Linked DNA regions of Homo sapiens: region 1 is linked to region 2. The links come from fine-mapping of genetic effects on gene expression. A gene starts in region 2. The other region holds a variant in brackets. All regions are shown on one strand. Distances are from middle to middle. Region 1 holds the start of PYY (peptide YY). Region 2 holds the start of SLC25A39 (solute carrier family 25 member 39).

Region 1 (2,895 bases), 370 kb after region 2:
CCCTCCCACCCCCAACTCCCATCCACGGACAGGCTAGGGAAGACAGAATCTCAACCCTGGTCCTAGGGGCTGCCCCAGGAGTCTAGATCCAACCGCTTCACTTCCTCAGGAGGCTAGACCTGCCACTGGGGGGCTGTGGGGTGAACATGGGGTTCAGGCTGGGTACCCCATCCAGTGAGACCACGAATCTGAGCATGGCAACTGCCCCCTCAGCTCCTGCGAGGTGGAGACATCACGCACTGGCTGGGTATAAGCTCAGCGATCTGGCGAGGGTGGAAGGAGGGAGGAAGAAGGGCCCACCCCCTGCTGGCTCCCCCTCCCCCTGGGACTCCCCCTCCCTTTCCAGGCGGGGATATAAGCCCCACAAGGAAAGCGCTGAGCAGAGGAGGCCTCAGCTTGACCTGCGGCAGTGCAGCCCTTGGGACTTCCCTCGCCTTCCACCTCCTGCTCGTCTGCTTCACAAGCTATCGCTGTGAGTGGCTGGGGGCTCAAGCCTGGGGAAACCCAGGCTGTTTTGTGGGGAAACTGAGGCTGGGATGGTGGAAGCTGGGGGTGAGTGGTAGGAAACTGGATTGGAGGGGGCCATCGGAGGTGGGAAGGAGGCCAGCAGCGGGGGTGGGGGTGGGGAGGCAGGCAGGGCTTATGCTCCTCTGACATGAGGAAACTGAGTCAGGAGACGGTGCAGTGCCCAAGAACACACAGCAAGCCCGGTGGCTGAGCCTTGGTCCGGTACCAGCCCCAGGGAGAGCGTCGGAGCGCGGCCCCGACGGCAGCCGCAGCCTCCCGCCGTGTAGGGTCGAGGCTTGGAATGACCCACGTCCCAATGTCGCCTTCCCAGATGGTGTTCGTGCGCAGGCCGTGGCCCGCCTTGACCACAGTGCTTCTGGCCCTGCTCGTCTGCCTAGGGGCGCTGGTCGACGCCTACCCCATCAAACCCGAGGCTCCCCGCGAAGACGCCTCGCCGGAGGAGCTGAACCGCTACTACGCCTCCCTGCGCCACTACCTCAACCTGGTCACCCGGCAGCGGTGAGCGCAGGCGCGGAGCGGGACCCCTGGGGCTCTCACCCTGCGGCCCCGCTCCACCTGGGGGCGTGGCCAGATCTGACCACGCTCTTCCCTTCCCCGCCCCCAGGTATGGGAAAAGAGACGGCCCGGACACGCTTCTTTCCAAAACGTTCTTCCCCGACGGCGAGGACCGCCCCGTCAGGTCGCGGTAAAAGCGCCCGTTACCACACATCCTGCATCCGAGAGCGCGGCCTGGCCCTACCCTGGCAACATCACTTAACGACGTCTCCCAGGCTCGCCTCCCCAGATCCAATTCCTTCCCCTTCGCTTCCGCAGGTCGGAGGGCCCAGACCTGTGGTGAGGACCCCTGAGGCCTCCTGGGAGATCTGCCAACCACGCCCACGTCATTTGCATACGCACTCCCGACCCCAGAAACCCGGATTCTGCCTCCCGACGGCGGCGTCTGGGCAGGGTTCGGGTGCGGCCCTCCGCCCGCGTCTCGGTGCCCCCGCCCCCTGGGCTGGAGGGCTGTGTGTGGTCCTTCCCTGGTCCCAAAATAAAGAGCAAATTCCACAGAAACGGAATGTATGCCTTTGTATTTCCTTTCCTTTCTCCTTCGTGGAGGTGGCATCCCGTAGAAGTGGAGGGTGGAGGCGTGGGGGCCAGGGAAGAGAAAACCGACTTGGACAGAGGCGCCCCAGGACAAGGCTGGGGCGGGCTGCGGAGTTCCCTCTGCTCGGAGCCCAGGGAAGACTCGACCACCCAGCCTGGAGCTGGACAGCGCCCAGGCCAGGAACTGCTGTGGAAG[G/A]AACTCTGGTCGAGTGGGGGCAGGAGTGGATGGAACTCTGGAAGAAGGGGCGGGGAGCGGCGACAGGAGCCTGCTAGGCAGCCTAGGAGAGCAGATGGGGTCAGGGCTGTCCCTCCCCCACCCCGTGAAGCCGAAGACGGCTGGGGGACGAGTCGGGCACCAACACCCCGGGGCGTTTCCCCAGGAGCTGTAGTACTAGCGCCCAGGGCTGGAGTGGCTGGAGGTGAAGTGTAATCCAAAATGGGGCTGTGGAGGAAGAGCCGTGTGGGGGTGAGATGGCTGTACGTGTGCTGGCCGGAGAGGCAGGCCATTTCTACCGTCCCCCTTTCCCTGAGTAGAGGAGCAATGGGAGTGTGGAGGCTGCCCTATCCCTAAGAAACCTCCCTCCCCAATCTCGCTGAATTCACACGCAGTGGATAAGTCACGAACTGTTCTTTCTTAGTGACAAGGCCATAGGGACACCCTCCATGTACCCCCCTCCCCTGGACTAGCTACTGAAGCCTAAAGGCTCTGTGGATGTTTAAACTGGAATCCAACTCGAATCCCTCACCACTCTGTACCTATTCCAGAGCCTGCCTGCAGACTGATCTCCCCTGACATCCACCCTTCCCTGCCCCTTTCCTCCAAGAAGCTTGCCTTGATTGCCCAATTGCACTCTTCCTGCCCTCTCTAACTGCCCAGCTCTCAGGGCCTCTGCTCTGTTCACTGAGAGTTCTATGTCTCTGTGTCCTGTCTCCCTCCTGGGGCCTCAAGAAGGAAGGGCCTATGTCTCCTTCCTGGGACACAGCCTCCTGTATCTGTGGGCTCTCTTCTGGGACTCCAGTTCAGCAAGACCTGCCCAAATCTGAAGCAGGGCACTAGGAGATGAGGGGGGAAATCAGGTTGACTTCAAAACCTGTGACCCAGAGAGGGGAAAAACGACAGGAAGGCTGGGGGCATCCTTGCAGCGGATCAGGGGTTTTTTTGTTTTGTTTTTTGTTTTAGAGATGGAGTTTTTGCTTTTGTCGCCCAGGCTGGAGTGCAGTGGTGCGATCTTGACTCACTCCAACCTCCACCTCCTGGGTCCAAGTGATTCTCCTGCC
Region 2 (2,895 bases):
CAATGGCGCAGTCTCGGCTCACCGCAACCTCCGCCTTCCGGGTTTAAGCGATTCTCCTGCCTCAGCCTCTCGAGTGGCTGGGATTACTGGCATGCGCCACCACGCCCGGCTAATTTTTTGTATTTTTAGTAGAGACGAGGTTTCACCATGTTGGTCAGGCTGCTCTCGAACTCCTGACCTCTGGTGATCCGCCCGCCTCGGCCTCCAAAAAGGCTGGGATTACAGGCGTAAGCCACTGCGCCCGGCCTTTTTTTTTGAGACGGAGTGTTACTCTGTTGCCCAGGCTGGAATGCAGTGGTGCGATCTCGGCTCACTGCAACCTCCGCCGGCCGGGTTCAAGCGATTCTCCTGCCTCAGCCTCCCGAGTAGCTGGGATTACAGGCGCCAGCCATCATGCCCGGCTACTTTTGTATTTTTAGTAGAGACGGGGTTTCACCATGTTGGCCAGGCTGGTCTCGAACTCCTGACTTCAAGTGATCCGCCCGCCTCGGCCTCCTAAAGTGCTGGATTACAGGCGTGAGCCACCGCGCCCGGCCTGTGGTAATCTATTTCAACAATAACCTACTGCAAAGAGTTTTGAGACTCAGAAGAAATCACGATACGAGAGCAACCAACACCAAAACGTCGATGCCCTCCCGCACTCAGTGCTCTTCCTCTCCGCGCAGAGTCATTCCGGGCCTTAGGCGAGGTTGTGATTTGCCCAAGGTCACGCGAAGGTGGGATCTGGCTCCCCATGGCTCTCCCGTCTCCCCCGGCTTGCTCACGTCCCAGCCCGCCCGGCCCGGGCTGCAGCTCAGCTAACCCAGTGGCGCACACCCGCGCGGGGCCCTGTGGTTTACAAAGCGTTTTGCAGTTGCAGGCCTGTCCTGTAACCTGAAAAATGGGGGCGATGCTAAGGCCGGCGAGAGAAGTCGCCGCGAAGTTTTCAAGTCTCGGCGGGTAGCCCGGCAAGTAACTTCGTCGTTATTGTGTGGTCTCCCGGCGATCTCGAAGAACTCATTCTCACTGCCGCCGCCACGCACCTGAGGACACCGAGGAAGAGGGCCAGTGCGTCACCCTCGCCGTCCAGAAGGCGCTGGGGTTTCCAGTGCCGCGCGCGGCCGGGGCGGGGCTGGTGAAAATGCGCTGTTAAGGCCGGCGCGGCGGCTCACGCCTGGAATCCCAGCACTTTCGAAGACCGAGGTGGGCGGATCGCTTGAGCCCAGGAGTTCCAGACTAGCCTGGGCAAAATAGGGAGACAAAAATAAAAGTAACAAACCAGCCGGGCGTGGCGGCGCGCGCCTGTGGTCCCAGCTACTCCGGAGGCTGAGGCAGGAGGATCGCTTGAACCCGGGAGGTCAAGGCTGCAGTGAGCCTAGATCGCGCCACTGCCCTCCAGCCTCGGCGACAGAGCGAGGCTGAAAAAGATGCTGTCTAAAAAAAGATGCTGGAAGTGCGTGCTGCTGCCACGTTAAGCGCGACGTGGAGACCGCGAAGTTGGCCGGCAGCTCTCAGCGCTGGACAGGCATGGAACTCGCCCGCGCGGCCCCGTCAAGGGGGCGGGACCGTCGCAGGTCCGGGCGGAGACGCGAGTGGGCGGAGCCGGGGACACTCCGGGCTTGCGGCTGGTCGGCCCGCGGCGGGCGGGGCCTCGTGGCGCGGTGTAGGGGCGGGGCCCCCTTGGCTGCTTTCGGCGTCGGCCTAGGTGCGCTGCGAGCGCGCGCGGACCGCGCACAGGCGGCGGAGCCGGTATGGGCCCGCCTGACCCTGGGCGCCGCGCCGCACGAGCACCAGCCTAGAGCCAGGTAGGCGGCACTGGGCCGGGGCTGGGGGCGGAGACGGAAGCGGGGGTCTCCGGGCGGCCGTGCGAGCCAGGGCAGGTGCTGGGGCCGTCGAGCTGGCGTGGTCCCCCTCACCTGGCGGCTCTCCGCCGTTCGGGGCCGGGAGTGTCGCCGAGGGTCGGGGAGACGTCCTGGTCCTACGTTCCTACTTCCCGCTCTCCCGGCTGCGCCCCGGGCCTGCATTTTGGGGCGGGAACCCAGAGACTGCTCTTTCTCTCCGGGCCCCGGGTCTGGCCCGTCCGGCCGGGCGGGGAGGGCCGGGCATCCCAGCCCGCAGTCCTGAGGAGGCGACGGGCCCTTCTTGGTCACCGGATCTGTTTACACGTCACCCTCGATGCCCGGCCGTCCCTCCACGCCCAGTAACTTGGGCTCTCAGGTGCCTGCCCGGGGCCTTGGTGCTGGAGTGGGGGCTGTGGGGGCAGCACAGGTACTCTGATTTTGGGGCCACGAGGGCCAAATCCGCGCCTGCACGTAGGAGGTGCGCAGTGGACACGTGCGAGGTGGACGAGGGAAGGACCCTGGCTCCTACTGCATTCGAGCGATAGGTCTGGCACCCTAGCTTCCTTCGGAACCACTCCTGAGTGACCTTGGGCAGGCCACCTCGTCTCCCCGAGCCTTAGTTTTCCCCGGCGGAGGGGGGCGGACAGTCCCTGCTTTAGAGGTCATTGCCAGGGTTGTTGAGGCAACAGATGTTTCGAGGGCGGTGGATGAGGGTTGGGTTAAAGTCTCACAGTGGGCCGGGTGCGGTGGCTCACGCCTGTAATCCCAGTGCTTTGGGAGGCTGAGGCGGGCGGATCACGAGGTCAGGAGATCGAGATCATCTTGGCCAACATGGTGAAACCCTGTCTCTACTAAAAATGCAAAAATTAACTAGGCGTGGTGGTGCGCGCCTGTAGTCCCAGCTACTTGGGAGGCTGAAGCAAGAGAACCGCTTGAACGGGGGTGGATGTTGCAGTGAGCCAAGATGGTGCCACTGCACTCCAGCCTGGCAACAGTGCGCAGAGCGAGACGCCGTCTCAAAACAAAAGTCTCACAGTGGCCCAGCCTCCTTTCCTGCCATCCCTGGAGTTGTGGT

The links. PIP is the estimated chance that this variant, and not a neighbour inherited with it, causes the effect.
Region 1: its variant is fine-mapped to the expression of SLC25A39 in amygdala (GTEx, PIP 0.95).

The regions. Positions count from the first base shown.
Region 1 is chr17:43,951,427-43,954,321 of GRCh38, reverse strand. PYY (peptide YY) reads left to right here and starts at 382. Exons shown (of 4, transcript NM_001394028.1): 1 at 382-472; 2 at 839-1,026; 3 at 1,133-1,213; 4 at 1,342-1,589. The coding sequence starts at 839. The coding sequence ends at 1,366. RefSeq lists an enhancer at 844-1,347. The variant G/A (reference allele first, on the strand shown) is at 1,814.
Region 2 is chr17:44,323,600-44,326,494 of GRCh38, reverse strand. It overlaps SLC25A39 (solute carrier family 25 member 39), which reads left to right and starts at 1,672. Exons shown (of 12, transcript NM_001143780.3): 1 at 1,672-1,784. It overlaps LOC124904009 (a long non-coding RNA gene), which reads right to left and starts at 1,042. Exons shown (of 2, transcript XR_007065768.1): 1 at 874-1,042. RefSeq lists enhancers at 590-639, 1-749, 820-879, 930-1,009, 1,170-1,359 and silencers at 1,460-1,889, 1,910-2,129.